Linked DNA regions of Homo sapiens: regions 1, 2, 4, 5 and 6 are each reported to be linked to region 3. Evidence: microRNA targets listed by miRTarBase, many of them from high-throughput screens and not tested one by one. Region 3 holds a microRNA gene; each other region holds the end of a gene's coding sequence.

The links. Region 3 holds the annotated microRNA hsa-miR-3977 (GUGCUUCAUCGUAAUUAACCUUA, at 1,513-1,535, opposite strand). A microRNA usually pairs through its seed, bases 2 to 8, with sites in the 3' UTR of a target mRNA and lowers its output. Matches are read on the target gene's strand: a 7mer-m8 pairs with bases 2 to 8, a 7mer-A1 pairs with bases 2 to 7 and ends in A, and an 8mer does both.
Region 1: miRTarBase lists COLEC10 as a target of hsa-miR-3977. The part of its 3' UTR that is shown has no 7-base or 8-base seed match.
Region 2: miRTarBase lists MCU as a target of hsa-miR-3977. Seed matches in the 3' UTR shown: 7mer-A1 at 1,808-1,814.
Region 4: miRTarBase lists CNRIP1 as a target of hsa-miR-3977. The part of its 3' UTR that is shown has no 7-base or 8-base seed match.
Region 5: the mRNA of SPOUT1 is a reported target of hsa-miR-3977. Seed matches in the 3' UTR shown: 7mer-m8 at 3,725-3,731.
Region 6: miRTarBase lists LAMTOR3 as a target of hsa-miR-3977. Seed matches in the 3' UTR shown: 7mer-A1 at 1,128-1,134.

What each region holds. Positions count from the first base shown.
Region 1 is chr8:119,105,273-119,110,361 of GRCh38, forward strand. It overlaps COLEC10 (collectin subfamily member 10), which reads left to right. Exons shown (of 6, transcript NM_006438.5): 6 at 528-3,183. The coding sequence ends at 919. Among named protein-coding and RNA genes, the nearest start is that of COLEC10, 41 kb to the left of the region's middle.
Region 2 is chr10:72,885,365-72,889,364 of GRCh38, reverse strand. MCU (mitochondrial calcium uniporter) reads right to left here. Exons shown (of 8, transcript NM_138357.3): 8 at 1,671-3,620. The coding sequence ends at 3,543. Among named protein-coding and RNA genes, the nearest start is that of OIT3, 6.4 kb to the left of the region's middle. RefSeq lists an enhancer at 2,060-2,354.
Region 3 is chr5:82,836,603-82,841,691 of GRCh38, reverse strand. It overlaps MIR3977 (microRNA 3977), which reads right to left and starts at 1,537; the gene lies at 1,468-1,537.
Region 4 is chr2:68,290,116-68,295,204 of GRCh38, reverse strand. CNRIP1 (cannabinoid receptor interacting protein 1) reads left to right here. Exons shown (of 3, transcript NM_015463.3): 3 at 1,179-2,195. The coding sequence ends at 1,343. All of the region lies in intron 1 of PPP3R1-AS1 (PPP3R1 and CNRIP1 antisense RNA 1), which reads right to left. Among named protein-coding and RNA genes, the nearest start is that of CNRIP1, 27 kb to the left of the region's middle.
Region 5 is chr9:128,819,008-128,823,362 of GRCh38, forward strand. It overlaps SPOUT1 (SPOUT domain containing methyltransferase 1), which reads right to left. Exons shown (of 12, transcript NM_016390.4): 12 at 644-3,826. The coding sequence ends at 3,758. ENDOG (endonuclease G) reads left to right here. Exons shown (of 3, transcript NM_004435.2): 1 at 1-178; 2 at 1,732-1,841; 3 at 3,321-3,669. The coding sequence ends at 3,603. KYAT1-SPOUT1 (KYAT1-SPOUT1 readthrough) reads right to left here. Exons shown (of 25, transcript NR_182311.1): 25 at 644-3,826. Among named protein-coding and RNA genes, the nearest start is that of ENDOG, 2.7 kb to the left of the region's middle. RefSeq lists enhancers at 1-456, 407-496.
Region 6 is chr4:99,877,768-99,882,856 of GRCh38, forward strand. It overlaps LAMTOR3 (late endosomal/lysosomal adaptor, MAPK and MTOR activator 3), which reads right to left. Exons shown (of 7, transcript NM_021970.4): 7 at 569-4,300. The coding sequence ends at 4,227. Among named protein-coding and RNA genes, the nearest start is that of LAMTOR3, 14 kb to the right of the region's middle.

The DNA of each region.
Region 1 (5,089 bases), not on the chromosome of region 3:
AAGGAGGAAGTGAAAGGGGCAATGGAAACTCGGGAGAGTGACTGCCATGTCTATCCAAGGGCATTGGAAAGACTTCTTATAGGGGAAAATATTTCCACTGAGATCTAAAGGGATGAGTAGAAGTTTACCAGGTAGAAAAGACTTTCTAGGCATAAAAGGCTTGGAAGTATAAGAGAAAAGGGCCTGCTCATGTAGCCACCAGTATAGCTAAAGCATAAACTATGTTGGGAAATATAGTATGAGATGGGCTGGCTGAAAGTTCATGTAACATGTCTTTGTCAACTTTGTGCTGGCCAGGTGTGTGAGAAGTTGAGGAGAAAAGGAAGGGAGAACAAACGGTAGATATGTGTTCTCTATTTGCTAACTAGAGGTGGGGGTAATTAAATCTGTGACTACCTCATAATAGGGCTTTGAAAAATAATTCTTGAATATTGAATAAATAAATGTAAATCTGGCAATATCATATAATTTTGTTGCCTTTTATCTTTTTGAGATACGTAATGATACTCCTTTTTCTCTCCCTGCAGTGATAGCAGGGATTAGGGAAACTGAAGAGAAATTCTACTACATCGTGCAGGAAGAGAAGAACTACAGGGAATCCCTAACCCACTGCAGGATTCGGGGTGGAATGCTAGCCATGCCCAAGGATGAAGCTGCCAACACACTCATCGCTGACTATGTTGCCAAGAGTGGCTTCTTTCGGGTGTTCATTGGCGTGAATGACCTTGAAAGGGAGGGACAGTACATGTTCACAGACAACACTCCACTGCAGAACTATAGCAACTGGAATGAGGGGGAACCCAGCGACCCCTATGGTCATGAGGACTGTGTGGAGATGCTGAGCTCTGGCAGATGGAATGACACAGAGTGCCATCTTACCATGTACTTTGTCTGTGAGTTCATCAAGAAGAAAAAGTAACTTCCCTCATCCTACGTATTTGCTATTTTCCTGTGACCGTCATTACAGTTATTGTTATCCATCCTTTTTTTCCTGATTGTACTACATTTGATCTGAGTCAACATAGCTAGAAAATGCTAAACTGAGGTATGGAGCCTCCATCATCATGCTCTTTTGTGATGATTTTCATATTTTCACACATGGTATATTATTGACCCAATAACTCGCCAGGTTACATGGGTCTTGAGAGAGAATTTTAATTACTAATTGTGCACGAGATAGTTGGTTGTCTATATGTCAAATGAGTTGTTCTCTTGGTATTTGCTCTACCATCTCTCCCTAGAGCACTCTGTGTCTATCCCAGTGGATAATTTCCCAGTTTACTGGTGATGATTAGGAAGGTTGTTGATGGTTAGGCTAACCTGCCCTGGCCCAAAGCCAGACATGTACAAGGGCTTTCTGTGAGCAATGATAAGATCTTTGAATCCAAGATGCCCAGATCTTTTACCAGTCACACCCTATGGCCATGGCTATACTTGGAAGTTCTCCTTGTTGGCACAGACATAGAAATGCTTTAACCCCAAACCTTTATATGGGGGACTTCTAGCTTTGTGTCTTGTTTCAGACCATGTGGAATGATAAATACTCTTTTTGTGCTTCTGATCTATCGATTTCACTAACATATACCAAGTAGGTGCTTTGAACCCCTTTCTGTAGGCTCACACCTTAATCTCAGGCCCCTATATAGTCACACTTTGATTTAAGAAAAATGGAGCTCTTGAAATCAAAAGAAAAAAATGGGGAATTGTTCACAAACAATACTGGTTATAGTTCTCTTGCTAAATTGCCCACTGCTATTAACTTAACTTCATTTTTATTTATCTTAGGTTTACCTGCATCAATTTTATTCACCTTAGGCATAGGGAATGAGGGAAGGAGTTTGTGAAGCCTTAAGAAAATTCTGGAAGCTTCAAAGTGCTACCAACATCATCTCCAGGCCCCCTCATCCTTGCCTCTAACATATCACTAATGGTGACATTTCATGGGAGGCCTTTTACTCTTCATAAATATATGTCATAGAAATCCTACTGGAGATGTCCCTTCTAATACTCTGGCATCACAGAAATGTGTGAGGCACAGAATTCGGAACATGCTTAGAACTCACATTTACTGAGCTGGTAAAATTCTACCTTGAACTGTAGATCAAACCTCAAAGCAGCTTTCACTTGGAATTTAAAAATAAACAGTTCAAAGATACTCTAGATTATCACCCTATAAACTTCTACTCCAGTTATGGTTTCTGACATATGATTAGACTGTTTCAAATGCTGGCAAAATGGTTAATGAAGTAAGAGAAACAGATCAACAACATATGTTCACCTTAAACCATCTGTTCATGATTTCACCCGTGACTAACTGGTTATGAGATAGGACTTAATTAGGTTATTTCTGTGGGTTCAACAAGGGCCATAAACTCAGATCCTACAGGGGCCAGGCAGATGACTTACCTAAATGAAGTGGAACACGTGGGGACCCTAGTGCACTGAGCACAGCTTGCCCTTCCAAAGGAGCCAGCTGCTCCTCAGTGGCTGCTGCTGGTGCTAGGGAGGACCCAATCTTGCTAAATGTGCTGATATTTCAAGAGAAGTCAGAAAGCTGGGACTTTGTAACATAAGCTCATATTTTAATATGTTGGCAACTAATTAATTTTTAACCCAAATTTTAAGTGGGTTAAAAATTAATTAAAATTAAAGATTTGAGGTCAAAAGTCTTCTAGCTAAAGTTGTGATCATTTCATTTCTTACTTCTGGAGGAAGGTTCAGAAGGTTCTAACCAAATAGAATGTCATTAGGATATGATGACATGAAAGTCAAGATATCCCATTAATACCATATTCAATTCAGCTTAATAATAGGAATTTGTTATATGTTTGACATTTATCAGGTTACTAGTTAAACTCTTTTGAGATGATAGTACATGACACTTTAAAGGCAGAAAAGCTTAATAAAAATTACAAAGTAGGACATCAAACGCCAGTATCCTTGGATAGAAAGCCATCCCAGATCATGAGGAATGAAAACCTAGAAACACCTGTAGGAAAATAAAGCTCATATGTAAGAAGAGAGGAAGGAGAGACATGCAGCAAATGTTGCCTACGGGCAACTTCATGTTAAGGATCCATGTTCTGATTTGTTCTAAGCCCCCAAAGTATGAGTATTTATTGTGTGCACTGTTAGTGCTATTATTATTTACTGTGAATGTTATAATAATAGTTCTCTCAATGACTCATGTTGTCTGTGATGCTTCCAAGAGAGATAACAGAACTTCAACAAATAAGTTATATCCTGCAACCTTGCCTGAAAGAAATTTTGAAGACACCACACACTTAATTAAAATTACTACAAAAACTCAAATTTGTGAAGCACGTTGTGCTTTAAAAAATGCCTTCACATATCAATTTTCATTTGATTCTGATAAACTCTGTGAAGGACGAAAAACAGTCATTTTTACTGCCACTTCCCAGTGATACTACTGAGGCCCAAGGAAGCTAAGCAATTTACCAAAATCAGCTCACATATAAATGAATGCCATTAGCCTGCTGATTGAAACTGCCAATGCAGTGTCTTCTCCAATTTCTGTGCATTGCTCATGTATTGAATGGAAGTTCATCCACAATGGTCTTGTGATAGCAGGGGCTCAAACAACTTATCTGTACTACATTCCAAAGTTAAAGATGAGGATTAATTAACAGAGATGCTGGATACAGCAACTTGCCTTACAAATTTAGTGTTCACTGTTTTGTTTTTCAATTCACAAACGTCCACATAGGCATTAGTGTTGAGGAGGTGACTTACGGCAGCCACAGTACAATTCTGCAGATAACTAGAGTTATAGGGCAATCAAAGCAGATACATAAAAATCAATTTTGTTAGTCTTTTCAAAATACCAGCTCCTCAATTCCTGGACTTTTTGATGGGTTTTTCATGTCTCTATCTCCTTCAGTTCTGCGCTGATCATAGTTATTTCTTGTCTTCTTCTAGCTTTTGAATTTGCTTGCTCTCACTTCTCTAGTTCTTTTAATTTTGATGTTAGGGTGTTGATATTAGATATTTCCTGCTTTCTCCTGTTGGCATTTAGTGCTATAAATTTCCCTCTAAACACTGCTTTAGCTGTGTCTCAGAGATTCTGGTATGTTGTGTATTTGTTCTCATTGGTTTCAAAGAACTTATTTATTTCTGCCCTAATTTTGTTATTCAACCAATAGTCAGTCATTCAGGAGCAGGTTGTTCAGTTTCCATGTAGTTGTGTGGTTTTGAGTGAGTTTTTTAACCCTGAGTTCTAACTTGATTGCGCTGTGGTCTGAGAGACTGTTTGTTATGATTTCCATTAGTTTGCATTTGCTGAGGAGTGTTTTACTTCCAATTATGTGGTCAGTTTTAGAGTAAGTGCAATGTGGTGTTGAGAAGAATGTATATTCTGTTGATTTGGGGTGGAAAGTTCTGTAAATGTCTGTTATATCTGATAACAAGTTCTGAAATTGAGGCAGTAATTAAGAGCCTACCAACCAAAAAAAAGCTCAAGACTAGACAGATTCATAGCTGAATTCTACCAGAGGTACAAAAAGGAGCTGGTGACATTCCTTCAGAAACTATTCCAGACAATAGAAAAAGAGGGACTCCTTCCTAACTCATTTTATGAGGCCAGCATCATCCTGATACCAAAACCTGGCAGAGAAACAACAACAACAAAAATTTCAGGCCAATATCCTTAATGAACATTGAAGTGAATATCCTCAATACAATATTGGCAAACCGAATCCAGCATCAGAAAGCCTATCCACCATGATCAAGTCGGTGTCATCCCTGGGATGCAAGGCTAGTTCAACATATGCAAACCAATAAACATAATCCATCACATAAACAGAACCAATGACAAAAACCACATGATTATCTCAATAGATGCAGAAAATGCCTTTGATAAAATTCAACACCCCTTTATGCTAAAAACTCTCAATAAACTATTTAGTGATAGAACATTTCTCAAAATAATAAAACTATTTATGACAAACTCACAGCCAATATCATACTGAATAGGCAAAAGCTAGAACCATTCCCTTTGAAAATGGGCACAAGACAAGGATGCCCTTTCTCACCACTCCTATTCAACATAGTATTGGAAGTTCGGGCCAGA
Region 2 (4,000 bases), not on the chromosome of region 3:
ACAGGAGATGAACCATTTTACATTCCCGCCAGGAGTACCAAGGGTTCCAATTTCTCACCAACGTTTTATTTTCTGCTTTTTCTGATAATAGCCATTCTGATGGGTGTGAAGTGGTATTTCATGGTAGTTTTACCTTTCCTTATTAGTGATGTTGAGCATCTTTTCATGTTTATTGGCCATTTATATATTTTCTTGGAGAACTGTCCAACTCCTTTGCCCATTTTTTAATAAGGTTTCCTTTGTTGTTCACTATACTTTAAGCTTGTCCTACCCATGGTTTGCAGGCCGTGTGCAGCTCAACACAAATTCGTAAACTTTCTTAAAACATTGAGGGTTTTTTGTGTTTTGTTTTAGCTCATCAGCTATCATTAGTGTTGGTGTATTTTATGTGTGGCCCAAGACAATTCTTCTTCTTCCAGTATGGTGCAGGGAAGCCAAAAGATTGGATACTCCTGCTTTAAACTTCAAATTGTAAGCTCCTTAAAGGCAGGAATCATGTTTTCATTTTCCTTAAAAAACCTAACCAAAACAAACACAACCCTGCAAAGCTTAACAGAATGTGTGAAGTATGTAGATACCATTTGTTGAATGCAAAAAACGACTTAATATTTTCAACCTTGTAAGAGTTGAAGAAAGAAGGAGGAAACACAAGAAGTGGCTCAATAGTCAAAGACAGGTTTATTTTGGGGAGTATTCTGGCTGATTTCAATCAGGAGCATTCTGTCTTACAGACTGAGGGTACTTAAGGGTTTAGCAAGGGAGAGCTTATCGCATGCTCGGAGTGTTTCTGGGTGGAGGAGAATTTTATTTCAAGGGTGGAATGTCTGTTCGGAGGGGAGGTTATCTCGGGGCTGGGATGTCTCTGGTCAGAGGGGGCTTTATCTCAGGGTTGGAAAGTTTCTGGTCTAAGGTGTCATTTATGGTTTATGGTCATGCTGACATTAGCCATTAGGCTGATGTTTTCTGGGCTGGATTTAGGCGGTTTTTAATTGGGAGAACTTAAAATGGCAGTGCTTGTCCAAGATGGCGATGCTTCTGCTCTGTCAAACCTTACCTTCTTACACTTTACATGGGGGTAAGGGTTGTCTGCGTTAGGCTGCTGTAAGCTGCCAGAAGGCAGGACCACAGCTACAGAGGCTCTTTGAACAGCACCTCATATTGCACTCCAGCAACCAGATATTTAATACAAGTTTTTAAATATGCCTGTGGTGATCTTGGCAGCATGTGATATTTCCTGTTTGGCTACCACTGTAAATTTGATACAAACTCTGAAAATAATGAATACTTAATTTTGGTGCGTCTTTGAACAATTTTCTTGAGTCCAGGAGCCCATAGCACTGGGCAATCCAGGTGATCTGATACCACAGAGATTTTTCCTGTCAATCAGGAGATGAGGATTCAGGCTCACTGAGACTGCTGCTGCTGACTTTATTAACGGTTGTACAGGTCACTCAACCTCTTGGTGGCTCTGGAAAATTAGGAAAATACTGATTATCTTAGGTTCAGGAAGAACTAGTGAAATGCCTATTTTTGAAATATAGGCTTAAGGAAGAGCTTAATTTGATAATGATATTTTTATAAAAATGAATTTTAGAAGTAAAAAACTTCCCACCTAGAATCACAGGAAATGTAGTTTTTCTGGTTTTGTTTTAAAGAATGAGATGCTATCGTTCAAAAATTGAATAAGTATTTATTGTTCCAGAAGGTACATTGCTTTTTATACATATTTCATAAATGATACAGGATTTTACACATGTTCAATAGTTTGCTATTTGTTTAAAGAACTTTTCTCCATGTCCTCCCTCCCTTGCTTCCCACACACCCCAAAAAGATTTGCTCGTTGCACTGTGCTGTTTCTTCTTAAAAACCCTATGCACAAACAGGATAAATGGGTTAAAAATAATTCACACAACTTAACAAAAATAAATGAGGGAAGGAGCTGACGACTGGGGGTGGTGGAGGGAGAAGGAAGTGGGCGGAGGGTCAGGAAGTGGAGACATGCATCCTTTCATTCCGTCATGCCAATGAAAGGGGTGTTGGCAGGAGTAGCAGCAGCAGCAGCAATCCTGGCTGGCCTTCAACCTTTGCAAGGCACCTGGAGTCTGGGTTTGTCATTTAAAGTTTTTCTTTTCATACACAATGATCCCAAAGGAGGAAGAAAAAGAGAAAGAAACTCCTTGCCACAATGAGGAAGGATGAATCACGTGAAAGAAAAGGCCAATCAGTGGTGTGGCAGCCCCCATCATCCTTTCCATCCTGCCCCTACAGCAGTTAAAAACAGGATATTAGACACAGATTCCTTTGACTCTTCAAGCGCAGATGTCATCTGGAAATATGGTAGAAAATGTTTTGACAAAGTATAAGATTAATTCTCTTTCTCTCAATTTAAGATAAGAAAAAATAGGGTGAAGAGAGTGGGCTTGAAGGAAGCCCTAGAAATGTATTCCTATATAAAGATAAATTGCACCCTTTGAGATCCACACACTTGATTTACAACTGAAGTTGTGGAGGTGGGAGGGCTCACAAACAGTGTGGAAGTGTGTGTCCTTCGAGATGAACAAAGCCTCCAGACAAGGCAGTCCCATCTGGCTGGCCTGGAATGCTGTCACACAAAGCAGATTAGCAATAAAATTATTCTGGTTGAAATGGCTACAGAGCCATGATTCTTAGCCAATTTGTAAACCTTACATCTTCCTGATTTGGTAGTACAGCTGAACACCCCCTTTCCCTCTGATTTGTGTTCTGGAGGGAGAGGGGATTATCAATAGATAAGTATATAAAGGAGGGCAATTATTCCTCCTGTGAAAGACTAATTAATAAAACAAAACAAAACCAACAACCTCATGCAGTGTTGCCAGTGATTTTTAGACACTGATCCAGAGCACTGGGATATATAGACATTTAAGAAGGTATTAAGAGATAATCTAAAGTGTCAATTATTAAACAGTTATAAGTTGGTTCCAATTATCAAATGGAAAAAATGAGTGTAACCAAGAGGTACAGGTAGGTGGTCAGTAAAGGGATGCTGGAAGGAAAGATTCCTGGTAACTCTGCAGAGACTGGGTCCAATTTAAAATAAATGCTAATGATATTTTAGCATATCATGAGAATTTGCTTTTCTAGTATATTTATTTACTCCTATGTCAAAAATAGGGACAGTTAAATTAAAAACAAATAGAGTCGAGTGGGGTGCTGGTGTGTTACTCTTTTGCTGACTCTGCAAAGAAGATGCAAGAAACGAACACCCCCAGCATTGTTTTCTCTTTATGAATCTCTCAACTATATAACTGCATCATTTTCATCCAGAAACTGAGATACTTGGTTAAGACAATATTCACTAAGCCCTTTGAGCTTATATTCCACAATGCCTGATCCTCAGGTTTTAACATTCCCTTCTTCCCTCAGATCCTTTCTGTTTTTGTTTTATAATTAAAGGTAAAAACGCTCTACCCCCCACATGGCTCCCAGCTTCCACCTGCAATGCTTTAATTAAAAAGGCAAACAGGTGTTCCTTCTGCCAGGATTCAGAGGCTTTTTGCAGATCAATCTTTTTCACCAATTTGTCGGAGAGGCAGATGTACTTGTAATGGGTCTCTCAGTCTCTTAAGGTCCATTTCTGCCTAAAATAGAAACAAAAGGTGAGAAAACTGGCTAGTGAAGCTTTCAATGATATTACTGTCTACCAAGAAAAGGAAACTGTTCTCCATTACTATAAGTCAGAGAGATCATCTCAATAACTCTCAAAATAAGAGTGCCTTGAAAGACAAAGCATTTTAACTCACGGCATAGGACAACAAAGGGTGAATCCAAAATGGAAGCCATCCTTGGCAGTTTCAGCCCTCAACAAAGCCTCCAGAAAAATCAGTGCTATCAACAGGGTAGGACTCAGAGGCTAAGAATGTAAGGAGCATCTGAGACATACATCTTGATGGTGTTTCTCCAGTGAGAAGCCCTTTCACAAGGGCTAAGAGCCAGAACTTTATGCTACTCAAGATTTTAG
Region 3 (5,089 bases):
TGCTTCTATTCTGAGATGCGGTGTGTTACTATTCCCCCTATTATTTCAAATGATAGCAATATTAAAACAATTTTGTATTATACTTCCCTGAAGTTAGCACAATCAGGCTACTCTTTTTTGCCTTCAAAGCTAAGACCTTGACCCCAAACCACCACCATCTCTCACTCAGGTGGTGGCAACAGCCTCCTAACTGTTCTCTTAGCCTCTAGCTTTGTGCCTCTCTTCCCCAACAAGAGGAAATGCAATAGCCAGAACAGCCTTACAAGGTCCCTTTTGTTCAACACCCTACAATGAGCCTCAGTTCATTCTCAGTAAAAGCCAAATGTCTTCCTTCTCTTTTTAATTATCTAAGTTCATTTTATTTTCCAGGATATTGTTTATCTTGAAATTCTATGGGTGCAAGAAAAAAATGTGACTGCTGCTATTATTGCGTGGAGTATTCATATACAGAGTATGGCATCTATCTTGTTGGTTGATTGTGTTTTTCAAATCTTCTATGTCCTTACCCCAAACTCCCAATCCTCCCATTATGCTTATCACCTTCTAATGCAATATATGCTTACTTAATATGCTTAGTGTTTATTGTCTATCTTCCCTTGTTAGAATGTAAGCTCCACAAGGTAGGCATTATTGATTGTTTTGTTTCCTGATGTATCTCATTTTTCTGGAACTGTGCCTGGCACATAGGAGTGCACAGTAAATATTCATTGAATGTTTGAAGAATGCTCCATCCCAACCAAAGGTAGAATAAACCAGTTACTTATTTATTTTGAGACAGAGTCTTGCTCTGTATACAGGGTGGAGTGCAGTGGTGTGATCACAGCTCGCTGCAGCCTCAACCTCCTGGCTCAAGTGATCCTCTTTCCTCAGCCTCTTGAGTAGCTGGCACTACAGGCTAATTTTTTAAAAAAAATTTTGTAGCTATGGGGTCTCAACATGTTGCCCAGGCTAGTCTCAAACTTCTGAGCTCAAGGGATCCTCCTCTCTCAGCCCTCCAAATGGTTGAGATTATAGACATGAGCCACTGCGCTCAGCCCAGCTATGTTTATTTCTATGCCCTTTTCTTCCCTTTATTATTCTGTCTCACACACAAATATGTCTTTTATTCTGATGTCCCACTGATATGATATCAATCTATTTTAGTCAACATTTTTTATTCTTATGGGTTATATACTTTTTTAGTCTTAATATCATTTAAGGGTGGATCCAAGATTTGGGGGCCCTCTTCAAGTAAAAGAATGTGAAATTAAAAACACAAAAACTGCTTGGAAAGAGGCTCTTCACTCTCATTCATGCCAGCTATCATGTTGAGATGCAAGACACCACTCCCCTTTCTTTCCATTGTGGAAGGAATTTCAGATAGTAGAAAACAGGGGCTTCCACTGATAATTTCCTAGCATAAGCTATGATGTTGATGATAAACAAGATTAAACTAAAAGGCAAAGAAGAAGCAAAAAAAGTAGTTTGATTCTGCCAACACATAACAAATTAAAGTGATTTACCCGAACCACTTAAGGTTAATTACGATGAAGCACAATGTAGACTGTGAATGTCATTAGTCTGATAGATTCACTTTGGCTGCCACAGAAGCTAGCATTTGATTCTATGCTGAGCTAAGGAGTTTCTTCAGCTTCTGGCACACAACCCAAGGCTTGCCCCACTCCTTGTTTTTTTTTTTTTGATTTTTTTTTAATTGTTGCTAAAATCAGTGGAACACTGGAAGAGAGGGAAAGGAAGAGAGAGAATCAAAAGCATGGAGGCATATAGCAATCTGAGGAAAGGAAGAGGTTGAAGACATTAACGTAGATATCTATAGCCCCAGTTGAGTTTCTGTTCATCTCCCTTCAATACCCATTCTCTATCCAAATAGTGATGTGGCGCTTTGTTTAATTATTGTTTAATAGAAGTCTTCTCTCCTAGATTGGAAGCTTCCTAAGAGCAAAGGCCTCATCCACTTCCCTCCTGCTCTCCCTGCAACATGTCCCCCTCCATGTGTCTGGCACATTAAAGGGTTTCAATCAATAATTGATGTGTGAATTCCTTTTACGAATGAGTAAACAAATTGAAGAAAATTTGGCTCTTAGAATCCCCCACTTGGTAGAGCATCTCCTTAGTCCTGTTTTCTTTATTTCATTTATTTCTACACCAAGGATTTCTTCTGCTCCTTATGCCCAAGGCTGGAAGACTTAAACCCCTGAATGGGAAAGTGCCTTATAGCAACTGCCTTCATCAAAACGAATTAGACCATAAAGACATCTAGTCTGCACTCTCTCCTACCTATCACTTTCATTTTATTTGTAATATGTTAATAATACATGCAGAGCAGGATAAATGAAAAATATTACAATATGTTCTGTTGACCTAATGTGAGCATACATTTGGCCAAGTAACTGTGAAATATTTGATATTTTCACAGGAAAGCCAATGACTTTCCGTCTCTGAAGTTGGTGCTTTGGTTTATTTGACACATTTTCCATAGTCATGTTACCAGTAATTTTAGAGGTCCCAGGGGAAGAAACATTTCTCTTCCCTGAGTTCAGTAATTGTCATCTGAAGGTCTGAGAGCTGTACCACTTGCTTCTTGATTGTTTGGTTAAAGAAAAAGTTGTATGAAATGTCCTTTCTATTTTCAGAATATATATTTAACATAGAAAACCTGCTGGTAATTGTGCCAGCACTTAAACGCTATTGTTTCTTGGAAAGGGCCTATTCTGTTGCATGTGCCTTTTAAATGTAACATCTTTAAAACTTGAGTTCAAAGGACTGCCTCTCCTTTCATTAAACTGTAAGGACTTTGGAATGCTGTAAATTCATGTTCCCAGTAATTCTGGTCCTGGACAAGTTTCCTCTTCAACACCCCCTGTCCTTTGTTGTCATCTGTCTTCTCAGCGTCCTTCTGATGTCCAGCTTTGTGTTTCCTGCTATGGACATTTCCTGAGATCACTTGAGCTTATGTTCCATCTCCGAGAGAAAGCTGATGAGAATTAGTCATCCATGAATGTGATTATGGGTGATAATAAGCCCTTCTCAGTTGAGGTATTGCAGCTTAGCAGGAGACTTTTGAAATATTATCACTTTGCACAGTATGATTTTACCCAATATTCACAACAACCCTGTGAAGGAGAAGATGTGGCTAGAAATATTTCCATTTGTAGGTGACAACACTGCATTCCTGAAGGGCTAAATGATTTGCTGATGGTGATGTTACAGGACCCCAGCACTTACCCAAAGGTAGCCATTGGGTCAGGGTTTCTGCTCTATAGTCCCTTCTGTGTCACCAGAAAGATGTTACAGGACCCCACCACTTACCCAAAGTTAGCCTTTGGGTCAAAGGTTTCCTCACTGTAGTCCCTTTAGGTTTTGCCAGAAAGATGTTATAGGAAAGGGGTCCGGATCCAGACCCCAAGAGAGGGTTCTTGGATCTCGTGCAAGAAAGAATTCAGGGCGAGTCCGCAGTGCAAAGTAAAAGCAAGTTTATTAAGCGAGTAAAGTGGTGAAAGAATGTCTACTCCATAGACAGAGTAGGATGTTCCTGAAAGTAAGAAGAGAAACACATCCACCCTAAGTACAATACTTGTATATATGGGGAGATGTGCTCTGCTACAAGGATTTGTGATAAAGGATTAATTTGCTTGATTACTATATTTTGCAAGAATCAATATTATTATCTTTAAAGCAAAATTAGGAATGCCTTTGTTCTCCAGATATCGGGATATCTGGACATGCCCAAGTCTGGGTCTGTTTAGCAAACATTATTAATTTGTTCCCTTAACCATAGACATCTAGAGGCTAGGAATGACTAACCTTCTGGAAATGCAGCCCAGCAAATCCCAGCCTCATTTTCCTAGCCCTCACTCAAAATAGAGTCGCTCTGGTTCCAACACCTCTGACAGTGACACAAAAAGTAGCAAAGTCTGAACTGAAAACAGGCTGAGTCAAGATACTTTTGCATTTTTCTATCATCAGGTTACTAGCATCTGGAATGATCAGATAACAAAATTGTAAGCAAAATAGTTGGCGAATAGGAAGGACTGTGGCTGCATGCTAATCTTTCAGCCCTTCCCTGATCTTTGACTCCTCTCGCTTCTTTGATTCCACATTCCCTTTCTCCTCCTTTTCTAACAGAATCTTCTAGTTTCCTAAGCAGATTCCTTTCTCTCTGTGTCCCTTGGAGTATCCAGGGGTTTTGGCCCTCTTCTTTGTTCACTTTATACTGTCTACATGTGTCACCTTAGGTACATCTTTGGTTTAAACCATGATCTTTAGGTTGATGACTTAAAAAACCCAAATCCTGAACTTAGGTAAGTCTTTGCTGAGTACTATGATGGTGCACGCAATTGTCTACAGGGTAACTATTCTGGATAGTCAACTATTACTCTAACAAGACATGGCCAACTCACCAGCCATCTTACAGACTGAACATTTGTGTGCCCCCCACATCCATATTTTGATGCCCTAATCTCCAATGTGATGGCATTAGAAATTGAGGCCTTTGAGAGATAGCTAGGTTTAGATAATACCATGAGGGTGGAGCCCCTAGTGATGGCATTAATGCCCTTACAAGAGAAAAAGAGACACCAGGGTGTCTTCTCTTCATCAGGTGAGGATACTGTGAGAAGATTACCATGTGCAAGCCAGGAATTGGACCCTCACCAAGAATCAAATTTATCAGCACCTTGATCTCAGATTTCCCAGCCTCCAAAACTGTGAGAAATAAATATCTGTTGTTTAAGTAAAAAATACTGGTGTTTGCTATTTTGTTATGGCAGCCTGAGCAGACTAAGACAAGATGCACTCCCCACCTGCTACCCTCATCTATTGCTTACAATATGAAATTACAACTTTGCTATTAGGCCATTTTCCAATTTTTTCATCTATTGATCTATCTGACTATAGTTTGGATATTTGACCCTTCAGACTGCATGTTAAAATTTGATGCCAAAGTTAGAGGTAGAGCCTAATGGGAATGTTTGGGTCATGGGGGTAGATCCCTCATGAATGGCATGGTGTCATCCTTGTGGTACTGAGCTCTCACTATATTAGTTTCCATGAGAGTTCCCCTGAGAAATGGTTGTTGAAAACAGCCTGG
Region 4 (5,089 bases), not on the chromosome of region 3:
ACTCCTAATGCTCACTGCCTTCCTCTGTCCACGTCTTCTGGCTCCAGACAAGTCTAAGAGTCCTGCCAAGTCAGTCCCTGTCCCCTCCCATGACAGGGGAGGGTCAGAGGAGAAAATAACGACAGGCATCATGCAGTTTAATGCCAGATCCCCTAAATAGCTCCAGAAGGCAGTAGCAGGGTCAGGCTACCCCACAGGCCACTTGAGCATCTGCCCAGTGGCCTCCAGGGTATTCCAGGTACTCTTCTCAGCTGCAAGAGAAATGTGTACTTTATACCTCAGGAGAGTTCTGTGCAGTGATTTACAGGGCCTACCTTCTGGAAGTAGAATGCTAACTTCTTAAGAGCAACAATCCTGCCTTATACGAATTTTTATACATGCAAGGTACATAGCAGATACTCAAATATGGTTCTGGGTAATGTATAATCTAAGCCCAAGATGTAGGCATGGACTCCTGACTTATAAGTATTCAATGTTTAATAGTTAAAATATGGCCTTTAACACTTCCAATGAAATATTTTCAGTTATCACTTTGAAATATTTTTCTTTGGAATTGAAACTAATGATGGAAATTTTATGTAGATGTATTGTAGACAGGTTGTTTTGTACCATTGTATTTTGAGAAAAGCCAGTAAACTTTATTCCTTCTCTTCCCTTCGCCATTCCCCTTCTGTAGCAGGGACCATTTGGGGGATGAACATGGGGGTTTGTTTTAGAGACAGAATCTTGCTTTGTTGTTCAGGCTATTCTGGAACCCCTGGCTTCAAGCTAGCATCCTGCCTCAGCCTGGGATTACAGGGGTGAACCACTGCACCTGGCCAGCAGGGGCCATTTTAGAGTAAGCTTTAAAATTCTAAGTTTTCAAAAAATTAAACTTGAAAAACAAGATAAACTTTGCAGTTATTTTTATTAAAAGCAATATGATAGCGAGTGGCACGTTTGCAATGGGAATCAGATTTTATAGAGAAGAATGGTTTACAGACAGCTTTTTAGGAAAATATCTCCCATCATAAAGGAGGGAGCTAGACCACTAAAGGAAAGCCTTCCGAGCCTTGCAGACCAAGAGAATCTGGACTGGGTCTGCTTGATTATCCAGGAGCTACATCACTAATGTTAGCTCTCATCTATTGCTCGTGGCAGAATGAGGTTTTTTATCAGGCATGTTTCTCTTCCCTCAGTTCACAGACATTGGGACCTTCGAGACAGTGTGGCAAGTCAAGTTCTACAATTACCACAAGCGGGATCACTGCCAGTGGGGAAGCCCCTTCTCTGTCATTGAGTATGAATGCAAGCCCAACGAGACACGCAGTCTGATGTGGGTGAACAAGGAGTCCTTCCTCTGAAAGTGGCTCTTTCTGATGCTACTGGACAATCTTTTCAGAAATCTACTTTTAGATAAACCAGCGCAGGCCTTAAACAAGGCATGCCACACCATTGCTGTTCCCCATCTGGTACTAATGACCTACTAGCCCTGGTTATTTTGAAAGTGTAATTCCCCTCTGACACAATATCCCTCACATACAAGATGGTGATGTACCACTCCCGAGAATATTCCCATCTGTATTTTGTGCTGATGTTCCTGCATCCAGTTGTTCTCGGTCATACTTTTGACCACTTGTGACTGGAGTTCAGTGGCCCTGGCAGGCTTGTCCTGCTCTTGACCATTCCACTGACTAACTTTGGTGTTTTGTTTCCAAGTTAAGTGATTCCTCCTTTTTTTTGTTCAATGTTAAATTTAAAAATAACAATGTGTATGGGTCCTCCCATGTGTAATATGGTAACATGTAACTTGCAGTGTTTGCCAGCTTTCAAAGCAGGCTTTGTGAAAATGTAATACAAACAGCAGTGAATGGGACTCAAATGTTGTGCTTCCTATAAACAGCTCCGCTCTTTCAGGGAAGGATGGTAACAAACTAGAAGGACAAATATGTACGTATTTATAACGTATTAAAACTCTTTTAAGTAGCTTAAGGTATTGTGCAATGGCCTAGCCTAGTAGAAATGGGGGAAAAGCATTGCTGTGGACCATTGTTAAAGTGACAGGAGTTGTAGGGTTACCCCTTTGACAAGCTTCCATAGTCTTCAGACACGCACATTGATGGCATCCCTACAGTCTTCTTCACTTGAACTTTGTAAAACTGCATATGGACCTGTAATCAACTTTTGATATTTCTTAATAAAGGCGTTGAAAATCATGCCCTGACTTGCATTCTTAATTTGGGCAATAATTATCTAGCAGGTGAATCCCTGCTCTAGGCCAGCTTCACTCAGGCCTGTATGCTACAGGATGACGGGGATGTATCCGGAGTAGAATTAGCACACCTATTCATGAATCAAGCCTGACCTTTTAGCAGGATTGCTCCAGCCAAGTTTAACAGGGCTAGCACAGGCCCAGGTGCTTGGCGGGCAATCAAAAAATGCTTGTACCTATCTCGCTCCATTACTCTTTCTGTGGTGACCCCTCCCCAGTTGGTGAGCTATGTGACTCAGTAGCAGGAGAGCAATGGTGCTATAATAGTGTGTGTACATCATGGTTGAGGCCTCCTTGCCTACTTCCAGCACCTTGCACAAAGCCCATATACCATACAGTTTAAGGATAAATTCCATAAGAAGGAAGTGAACTTCCTCTTGAAAAGTAACATGCTATTTTCCAATAATGTAATATTTACTTGGGCAGCACAAATCCTATAGTATTGGAAAAAGTTCGTTGGGGATTGTTTGTTTTTGCTACCTGTAAACCCTTCTTATAAGAAAATGCAAGCTACTGGGAGTATTTTTAAAAGTTGATTCATTGTAGAACTGAATTTGAAAGGCTGGCACTCAACACCTTTTCTACCTCCAAATCGCTTACCTGCAGTGATGCTGTACAGCCACCAGGGAACAGCAATGCCTTGCCTTTGGGGATCATAAATGATGTTAAAGGAGTGTAACATGTTTCTCAATAAGCTTGTGTTTTTTGTTTGTTTTTTTGTTTTTTTTTAAAGTCTTCATTACAATTGCTAAAACGTAAGTACTAACCCATTCCTAATGACTATTTTTTAAAACCAACACTCAATTATTTGAACAGACATTGAGATATTTAAAACAATGGATTTACTACAGAGGTTTTTCTTCCAGAATATCCAATAGAAATGCAGAGTGAATAAAAGATTTAAAATAAAAAGTGGGAACTACACAATTTAATATTTACTAATTTGATTAGTAAATATTTTCACTGGTGAAACAGGTTTTCAAGCCAGGGACTAGAGCTTGAGTATTTGTGTTGAGGGTGGAGACATTATCATGACTTTTGCAATAATCCACTCTTTTTTTTTTTTTTTTTTTTTGAGATGGAGTCTCACTCTGTCACCCAGACTGGAGTGCAGTGGCATGATCTTGTCTCACTGCAACCTCCACCTCCCAGGTTCAAGCAATTCTCCTGCCTCAGCCTCCTGAGTAGCTGGGATTACGGGCGTGTGCTACCACGCTCAGCTAATTTTTATATTTTTAGTAGAGATGGGGTTTCACCATGTTGGTCAAGCTGTTCTCAAACTCCTGACCTCGTGATCTACCTGCCTTGGCCTCCCAAAGGGCTGGGATTACAGGCGTGAGCCACTACGCTGGGCCCATACTTTTTTTTTTCTTTTTTAACTAAAGGCTTTATTTAGAGTTTGAAATGAGTCAAAGCAGACTTGGAGGAAACATGTCCTGGGATAGCTGCGCTGTTATCAGTGTCCCACAAACGAGCCAGAAGATGAGCCCTGGCAGAGCACCTGGAGCGTGGGAGTCCTGCTCACATCCTGGATGGTCACCACACCTTTCTCTGCCTCAGTTTGCTTATCTCTAAAATGAAGGGTTAGACTAGTAGAATTCTGAAGCCTTTTAAGAGTTATGGTTTGTTCCTCTATTTTATACTCCTTTAAAAAAAAAAGGGGAAAGTGTGTGTGCATATCTGTCTATGTCGTATGTGTATGTGTTTCCTTAGGGCCAGAAGTAAGGTTGAATCAAGGGAGTTGGGGAGGAGATGGAGATGAAGTAACAGAAAAACTTAACAGCTAATCTGCACGTTAAGTGATCGCTCCTGGCATATACTGTTCTACTTATGATTGGGCTCCAGCCCAGTCTCTCTGGCTACTTCTCACATAGCTCTCCTCCTACTCCAAAATTTGAGTGCTCAGCTATATCGAGCTGCTGAGTTGTAACTTTGCCCCTCAGCCATCTGGAAGGGCTATTTTTATACAAGTTGTAGCCACGTCTCTCTACCTCCAAGCATCAGATGGCTACCCAGAAGCTTGAGGAACTAGGCCATCCTTCCAATTATGATGATGACTAAAACACTTTTGAACAGGTGGAAGAATAGAAATGCCTTGAGTTTATATTTTGTGACACCTCGCTTACTGAGAAGTCACTTATCCAGCCATTTAAACTATCTGGATCACAGTTAAGAACAGAAAACATGCCAAAAAATAAAGATCCCTGTCACAGATGTCACCAAGTCCATTCACTAAAGGCTCGGGTCTTCTCCCAAGGCCTCTTGACTCCTGTTTTAGACACAATTCTAACATGTGGGGTGATCTGGTTTCTGACTCTTATGAAATTGGAAGTAGAACATGAAAGGGAAGAAGACAATTTGTAGAGGCAGATATACTGAAAATATTCTTTTTTTTTCAGAGAGGACAGAGAAAACTATAAAAAGCAGACAAAGTAAATCAAAAGAACAGTAGATGGGGACAACTGTATCCTGTAGGTACATAAATAATCCTGTATTAAACCACAGTAGTTTCTGTATATATCAAATAAAAATTGATAAGCCTAATGATATTCCTGATTCATTTAGAAAGAGGGCCCATTATCATCAGTAATGTATCATGGTTCAGTGTTTAAAAGCTCAGATTCTCCACCAAGCGCAGTGGCTCACGCCTGTAATCCCAGCACTTTGGGAAGCTGAAGCGAGTAGATCACTTCAGGTCAGGAGTTCAAGACCAGCCTGGCCAACATGGCAAAACCCCGTCTCTACTAAAAATGTAAAATTTACCCAGCATGGTGGTGCACGCCTGTAATCCCAGCTACTTGGGAGGCTGAGGAAGGAGAATCACTTGAACCCAGGAGG
Region 5 (4,355 bases), not on the chromosome of region 3:
CGACCGGCGCGAGTGCGACTTCCGCGAGGACGACTCGGTGCACGCGTACCACCGTGCCACCAACGCCGACTACCGCGGCAGTGGCTTCGACCGCGGTCACCTGGCCGCCGCCGCCAACCACCGCTGGAGCCAGAAGGCCATGGACGACACGTTCTACCTGAGCAACGTCGCGCCCCAGGTAGCGCCCGCGCCCCGGGCCGGTCGCGGAATGCGGGGCCGGCGCCTGGCCTCGCGGGGCCTCGGTTTGTTCTTCTGCAGAACGGGGCAGCTGCCCAACGCGCCCCCGGTCAGGCATCGCAGTGACATCCCGTGGCGGGAGGGAGGAGCACTGGGCTCCAGGCACAGGGTCTGCAGGCCGACCAGGGCTTGAGCTTCAACTGCGAACCCTGGGCACCTCCCTGAGCGTCGCTTTCCTCGTCAAAAAAATGGGGATAATACCGTTATTCACCTTCCTCCTGCGGTAGTGATGAGGCGCTGAGGCTCACAGAGGCAAAGTGACGGGCACAGTGTCACACAGCAGAAGAAGGCTGTCTGTTGTAGAACCGCAGCGCCCAACCTATTGGGCACCAGGGTGCGGTTTCGTGGAAGACAGTTTTTCCACGGCTTGGTGGGTGAGGGCGGGTTTCAGGATAATTCAAGTGCGTTACATTTATGTACATTTTATTTCTATTATTATTACATTGTAACATATAGTGAAATATACAACTCACAGTAATGTAGGATCCGTGGGAGCCCTGAGCTTGTTTTCCTGCAACTAGACAGTCCTATCTGGAGGTGATGGGCAACAACGACAGATCAGGCATTAGGTTTTCAAAAGAAGCGCGCAACCTCCTCACATGCGCAGTTCACCATAGGGTTCCAGCTCCTATGACAATCTCCAGCCGCCACTGATCTGACAGGAGGCGGAGCTCAGGCTGCTGTGGGATCAATGGGGGGGTGGCTGTAAATACAGATGAAGCTTCCCTTGCTCGCCTGCTGCTCACCTCCTGCTGTGTGGCCCGGTTCTGGTACCGGTCTGTAGCCCAGGGGTTGGGGACCCCTAGTCTATAAAACCGTGAGCCTCCAGACATTGTCCTACCCTGCCTGCCTTCAGGCAGTTTCGAGGCAGACACCTGGCCCACGATCAGGTTGTTAGTGCCAGGCACTGTGCACTGGGCCAACCACCCTCTCAGCCTGTTCCCAGCAGGTCCTGGCACCAATGGATGGAGACTGCCATGGGGCTCTGGGTGGAGCCCATGGGGCACCAACCTCTGACCCAGCTTCCTTCTGGGAAGACAGCCCCCTATCCACTTTCCATTGTCCCAGGCCTGGAGAGCTCAGGATGGAGGTCGATTCATGGCATTCCCCGCTAGGCTCTTCCTGTGGCTCAGACTGGGAAAAGGAACGGGTTGGTAGTTGGAAGGGCTGGTCTTCCCAGGAGACCCTGGGTGGGGCTGGGGACAGGCCTCAGTCCTCTCTGAAAGGTGGAGACAGGCTCTTCCTTCATTCGACTCTTGGGAGCTGAGAAAAGACTTTGACACCTGGGCTGTGGGAGGGACAGAGGGTGGTGGCTAGCACTCTATCAGCCCTGGGTTTCAGGGAGTGACTTTCATTCCTTGAGCCTCAGTTTCCCCCCGCTTGTCTCACTGGATATCTCTGAGCCTGTCCATCCCCTCAGGACCTGGGGCGGCCCTCTGATAGAGGAGGAAGGGTCCCAGCCACAGTCCTGCTAAGCCCTATCTCTCCTACCAGGTGCCCCACCTCAACCAGAATGCCTGGAACAACCTGGAGAAATATAGCCGCAGCTTGACCCGCAGCTACCAAAACGTCTATGTCTGCACAGGGCCACTCTTCCTGCCCAGGTAAGGTGGAAACCAGGGGGGCGGCAGAACCTCCCACTCACCTGAGGCCCCTACTGCCACTCACAGGGCCAGGCTTGCCCCAGGCTCTGGGTCAATACCAGTTCCCTACTCATCTGGTTTCTTGGCAAGCCTGTCAGCTTCCCTGCCTCGAGTCCCCTCATTCCACCTCCACAGCCAAAGACCTGTCGGGTACCCCTGACCATCTCTCCTCTGCCCATGGGCAGCAGCAGGCCCTGAATCTGCCCCCGCTTCTCCCTGCTGTCACCTCTTGGCATGCCCACCCAATCTTGTTCTGCCAATATGGAACCCCCCGCAGGTCTGCAGTGCACCAAGCTCTCCCACCTTCCCCCCGCAGGTCTGCAGTGCACCAAGCTCTCCCGCCTTCCCCCTGCAGGTCTGCGGTGCACCAAGCTCTCCCACCTTCCCTCTGCAGGTCCGAGGTGCACCGAGCTCTCCCGCCTTCCCCATGCAGGTCCCCAGTGCACCGAGCTCTCACGCCTTCCCCATGCAGGTCCCCAGTGCACCGAGCTCTCCCGCCTTCCCCATGCAGGTCCCCAGTGCACCGAGCTCTCATGCCTTCCCCCTGCAGGTCCGCGGTGCACCAGGCTCTCCCGCCTTCAGTCTCTGCTCTGCTTGGAGCACTTCCCTCCACCCTTCTCGGGAGTTTGAATCTAGATCTGCCTGACCCAGGGCCTCCACTCTTGCTCCTGTGCAGCCCTGCCTCTCAGGTGGAAGCAACTGAGCACCTCTGGGTGTGCTCCGTGGTTTTTCTGGCCTGCAGAGGGCTGGGGCTGAGAGGCAACAGGTCCAGGCTGAGCAGCTCACTCTGGAATCCACAGGCTCGGGATGGAGTCCAGGCCTCATCACCTAGTTCCTTGGTGCTGTGGGCAAATGACCTGTGTCCCCCTCTGCAAAACCTGTGACCTCTTGGTTGATGTCACATGCTTCCCCAGGGCCTGGTCCATGGTAAGGGCTCGGCATAGGCTGGCCAAGGCGGTGGTTGGGGCACTGATCAAATTTCATTAGCAGGTGCCTCCTAGGGCCTGGTGGAAGGGAGGAGACTCTGCTGAGGGGGAGCCCCCGTCCGGTGTCCTGGCACCTGTGCTGGTGCTGGGATATCACCTGTCATGGTCCTTGCCCACTTGTTGCTCACCTCTGTGGGGAGAGATGGACAGTCGTTAAGTCTCCCCTCAGACGAATGTGAATATTCAGAAGGCTCGATTCTCCTAGCAGCGTTTATTGTCGCCCACTCTGCCTGACCCAGTGTTGGGCATAAGGAAAACAGAGGGAAAGAGTTAACCACCCTGGAGAGAGTTCCAGCCTCAAGGAGGAGCCAGGCAGGCTACAGAAGTCTCACAGTGAGGGCGTGGTCCTGCAGGTTGACAGAAGTTAGAGGACAGATCAGGGAAGGCTGCCTGGAAGAGGTGGCTTTGGGTTCATCCAGGCCCCCTGCCCACGTGTGCCTGGGTCTGCCCACAGGACAGAGGCTGATGGGAAATCCTACGTAAAGTACCAGGTCATCGGCAAGAACCACGTGGCAGTGCCCACACACTTCTTCAAGGTGCTGATCCTGGAGGCAGCAGGTGGGCAAATTGAGCTCCGCACCTACGTGATGCCCAACGCACCTGTGGATGAGGCCATCCCACTGGAGCGCTTCCTGGTGCCCATCGAGAGCATTGAGCGGGCTTCGGGGCTGCTCTTTGTGCCAAACATCCTGGCGCGGGCAGGCAGCCTCAAGGCCATCACGGCGGGCAGTAAGTGAGGGTGGAGCCCAGTGAGACTGTGGGTGTGTGCAGGCCGGGGAGTATTAAAGGTGGTGATTTTTGGAGACAAGTCTGGTGGCGTCCGTCCCAAGTGACCTGCAGAGCCCCTGGTTTCACTGCTGCTTCACTGATGTCCTCGGCCCCTTAGAACTTTCAGGTGTGCCGGGCACCCGCCTGGATGAGGCCAGGCTGCAGGGCGGCCAGGGAGATGAGGATGGCTTCCTGGAAGAGAAGCGTGGCAGTGGGCTGGGGCCTGGGGGGCTAGCGGGTGCCCCCGCTCCCAGCCTGTCTTCAGTGCCTGGCTGCCCGAGACCTGGCCCACTGGGGTCCCCTGTCCTTAGTAGGGCCTGGTGAGGTTAATGACAGGCCCAGGTTCACACTGCACACTTGCCACCTGGAGGACCACACAGCCTGCTCCTCAGGCTCCTCTTCTGTAAAATGGGGGCGAAGGTAACAACGCCCACCTCCCAGGGCCAGGGGAGGGCAAGAAGAGGGGCAAGAAGTTTTCACCCCTCGTGCAGGGGTTGGAAGGGTGGCAGCCAGGGTTCCTGCTGGGGGGTATGGCTGTCAGGCTCAGAGTGCTCGGCTTGGGCAAGGCCTTAGGGATGGGTAGACAGGGCTGTCGGCCCGGCGAGACTGATGGGAGTACCAGCCTTCCCAGCAGAGTTCCCGTAGCACAGCGTCCTATGCCTGACCCCAAAAGTGGGTACACAGGTTCCATGAGGCCAGGACGAAGGCTCCAGCTGCACGT
Region 6 (5,089 bases), not on the chromosome of region 3:
CAAAAATTAGCCAGGCGTGGTGGTGCACATCTGCAATCCCAGCTACTCAGGAGGCTGAGGCAGGAGACTCGCTTTAACCCAGGAGGCAGAGGTTGCAGTGAGCTGAGATCAGGCCACAGCACTCAAGCCTAAGTGACAGAGTGAGACTCTGTCTCACAAAACAAAAAACAACAAAAAAGATGCATACAGGTGCCAAGCTGACTAGGAATGGACTGTGAACGTTAGTTTTATGCATCAACTTGGCTAGGACACATTGCCTAGTTATTAAAACATGAATCCAGGTACTGCTGTGGATGTATTCTGGAGATGTACTTAACATTTATAATCCCTTAAATTTAAGTAAAAGAGATAATCCTCCATAATGTGGGTGAGACTCATCCAATCAACTGAAAGGCTTTAAGAGCAAAACTGAAGTTTCCAAGAGGACGAACTTCTGCTCTGAAACTGCAGCCTCAGCTCCTACCTGAGACTTTTCAGTCTTCTGGCCCGTCCAACAGATGTTAGACTTGCCAGTCCCCGCAATAGTATAAGCCATTTCCTTGAAATAAATACACATATGTCCAACCGGTTCTGCTTCTTTGGAGAGCCCTGAGACAACTTTCTTCCCCAAATATCCCATTTTATTGTTTGTTGAAATATTTTATTTCTAATTTTATTATTTTTGAACAGTTAAAAACTCAAAGTACAATGAAGTTTACAATGAAAAGGCTCACTCCTGGGATCCTTATCCCCCAGGTATCTAGTTCTGCTCCTTGGAGACTACCAATGTGATCAGGTTCTTCCATATATGTCTTCAGAGACAGTCTACCATATACAAACAAATAGGAATACATACACATTTTTTCTTCTTATACATCAATTGTAGCATGCCATACAGTTTGACACCATGCTTTTCTCAATAAACATTATTATGCCTTAGAGATCTTTTCATCTCAGTACCTAAAGCACTTCTTCATTCCTTTTTCCATTGGGCAAATTAGTTTCACCAATCCTCTGTAATTTATTATCTAAAGTGAGACATTGAGAATGAAAGCACTATTAATAATTATCCAAGAACAGCAGGTATAAACTGGTAGTGTTCAAAAAGCCAAAGCATATGGTTATCCTACCTATGGCAGATATTTAGGTTGCTTCCAATTCTTTGACATTACCAAGTTGCAAAGAATATACTTGTAAATACATACTTTTGCACATCTATGTGCTTTGTTTGGTAGGATAAATTTCTAGAAGTGGAATTGCAGGGCAAAAGGTTATGTATATGAATTTAAAAGTTTCACAGACTGCCAATTGCTGTACATAAAGAGTATAACAAGTCACACTTCCCTAGCAGGCATAGAGAATGCCTGCCCTACTTATTGAATAATCCTTTTCCCATTGTGATCCCGTCTTTATAACAATGTTTTAAGCCCTCACATGTATGTACTGAAGTCTTTTTTCTGGGTGAGTACATACCATTGATATCTAGTTGTGCATTCAGTTCTGTACTACCTTTCAAAAACAGTTAATCTAGGTTTACATTACCCTTTCAAAAATTTCTTAGCAATTTTCACCACCTTATTTTTCCAGATGAACTATGGGATAGTTTATCTATTATACCCCCTCAGAAATTTTAACAGTGGCAGCATTCAACATGTAAAGGTTAAGTAGCTCCATTTGTTATCATTTCTTTTTCTAGGATTTTTAGATATACAATTATTATCTGCAAATAGAAATCTGGCCACCTCATTTCTAAAAGACATTGTTTCATGCACCATTGCACTGGCAAAAATTTCCTGAACGATATTAAATAATCCAGATAATGGGAATTCTGGATTTCAATGAGTACATCTAGTATTTCAATTGTAACAATTAACTACAGTCATGTGTTACGTAACAATGTGGATACATTTCGAGACATGCTTTGTTAGGTGATTTCATCATTATGTGAACATCATACTGTACTGACAGGAACCCCAGATGGTATAGCCTACTACTACACACCTAGGCTATATGGTATAGCCTACTACTACATACCTAGGCTATATGGTATAGCCTACTACACACCTAGGCTATATGGTATAGCCTACTACTATACACCTAGGCTATATGGTATAGCCTACTACTACACACCTAGGCTATATGGTATCGCCTACTACTACACACCTAGGCTATATGGTATAGCCTACTACTACACACCTAGGCTATATGGTATAGCCTACTACACACCTAGGCTATATGGTATAGCCTGCTGTTCTGACCACCCTCGTATGTGGTCCTTCACTAACTGAAACATCATTATATGGTACATGGCTGTATTTATAGCTCTTTGCAGGTAAAGCATTATATCTCTTGCCTCTATTTTATTTACAAAGGCTATTTTCTTGCCCATTTTAAGTGCCCCTAGTCTGTGGTTCTATACCATCCTATGTATAGCTTTATCATAGCACTTTCTATACCTGCTTCCTTTACTGAACTCTAAGTTCTTTAAAGTAAGGTATCACAAATTAATCTCATATTTACACTGAAGAAGGGAGGAAGGATGGAAGGAAGAAAAAGTAGCACATGGCCCGGTGCAGTGGCTCACACCTATAATCCTAGCATTTTGGGAGGCCAAAGCAGGTGGATCACTTTAAGTCAGGAGTTCAAGACCAGCCTGGCCAACATGGTGAATTCCTGTCTCTACTAAAAATACACAAATTTGCCAAGTGCGATGGTGTAAGCCTGTAATCCCAGCTACAAGGGAGAATGGGGCATGAGAACAGCTTGAACCCAGGAGGCAGAGGTTACAGTGAGGCAAGATCATGCCACCACTGCACTCCAGACTGGGCAACACAGCAAGACTCTGTCTCTTAAAAAAAAAAAGAAAGAAAGAAAAAGCAGCACAGCACCTAGCCAATTGCCTCACTGCACAATTCTAGGGATAACAATCACACATATTCTATGTGAAAGGCAACTCCCAGAGCATAGAAATATGATGAGACATGAATGGTGCTTCTTAGAATTGTGCAATGTGATAGCTCGGCTGACTGGCACACAGGTGCTCAATGCATATGTACTGAACTGATCCAGGGAAAAACTGATTGTCAAAGAGCCTAGAAAGAAATTAACTCTGAATGATAGACTGCATTCCTGAACATAAAGGGTATATTCTAGAACTGTAGTACCTCTTTCATGGAGATTAAATTAGGTTCATGCCTGAGGTTTCTTGGTTTCTTTTCTTTTTTGTTTTTGAGACGGAGTCTCTGTTGCCCAGGCTGGGGTGCAGTGGCACAATCTTGGCTGACTGCAATCTCAGGTTTCTTTTCCAGTTAACAGTTCATACTACCGTAAAACAATCTCCAAACCAATACCTACAAGAAACACTCATTATTTATTCATGTGGCTGAAAGAGTATATTAATTATGTTTAGATTTTTGGAAAAAGTCTGAACAAAAAAAGGACCTATACAGTGCTCAAACTATATTTTTAAAAATACTATTTTATTTTTACTCACATATGAAAAAAATGGCTGTACTATCATGTTTACATACATACTAACATTGGAAACAGAATAACGAATTGTATTTAAATTTTATGAAGAACACACAAACATTAAAACACTGATTGGTTACAGAAAGCAGAGTTTGAGGAAAAAACATTAGCTATAATTTTCATTTTCATTAAAGAGCAGCACCCTCTGAGAATAATCAAACTGATTAGTAATATTCATCTATACTGCAAAATAATATGTACAAAGGAAAGTTAGTGATTGTACTGATTTTATTACTTTTACCAAGCCATTTTATGTTCCTCACTCAATGCAAAGAAATAAAACATAATCTGAAGAAAAATATGTCCTTATTATTATTCACAATAAAAAGTTGGCTTTATTCTGCAAGCCTGGGCATATTGTACAATTGGCAGCACTTAACGGCTCAAGTGGATCAATGTACCAGTTTGATTCTGATCCACTGAATAGAATCTCTCATCCATATCTGGTGACCAGACTAACTCCATGGGAGCTGTGATAGACTGAACCATTTCTGTGGTATCCCTAGATCTCACTAAATAAGAAAGACCCTACACCAGAAAATATAGCAACTGATCTATCTATAAATTACATCTATATGCTAGCTCTTTAGTATAAGTTGGAAAAAGGGGCCCTTTCTTGAGCACATGGATAAAAGTATTATTGTAGTCTAAAGATTGCTGGATTGATATTGTGTTGTTATAATGAAGATAAGGTACACACTGAAACCACTGTCAGATTAAGAAACTTCCACAACTTGTCTCAGTTCTTCAAACAATGGAGCAAGTTCCTTTTCTAGGCTGACAATTAGTCCTAAAATAAAGAGATTAAGAAAATTACATGTTAGAAAAATGTTCCTCAAAGCCTGAAACTCAGATTTCCTTATGTCCAAAATACATAGTTACCAAAAGTAAATCAGAACATAGTTTATTTCCCATGACTGAAACAAAATACAGGTTGAATATCCCTTATCCAAAATGCTGGGTATCAGAAGTGTTTTGAATTCTGGAATATTTGTACAATACTTACTATTTGAGCATCCCTAACCCAAAAATCTCAAATATGAAATGCTCCAGTGAGCATTTTCTTTGAATGCCATATTAGTGCTCAGAAAGTTTCAGACTTTAGAATGTTTTGGATTTCAAATTTTTGGATTAGGGATGTTCAACCTGTACTATAACCCTAAATAAAGCAACCAAAAACTTTGTAGTCATTAATAAGTTTATTTTCAGCATCTATTACTAAAGTGAATGAGTGAAAAATACTTATATATTAGGAAATACAGAATAAATTATATGCACTATAATTTGTTAAGAGTTTTGAAAGGAAAATCTTAATTTATACCTTACTGCTTCAAAATTTGCCTTGACTCAGAAATAATACATATGATTTTTACTAAATAAAGCATACTTTTGTCTCTAAGCAAATTTTAACAGATTATATCAAAAGATAGGTGCTTCTATATTGAACAAAGAAAATCAGAAATTTATTTTTATAAATTTGACAAAGCTAAGACATAAATAAATATTTCAAATGAAAAAATATTTTAAAAATAAATGGTAGAGTACAAAACACACTGGAGTTCAATGATGAACCTGGGAG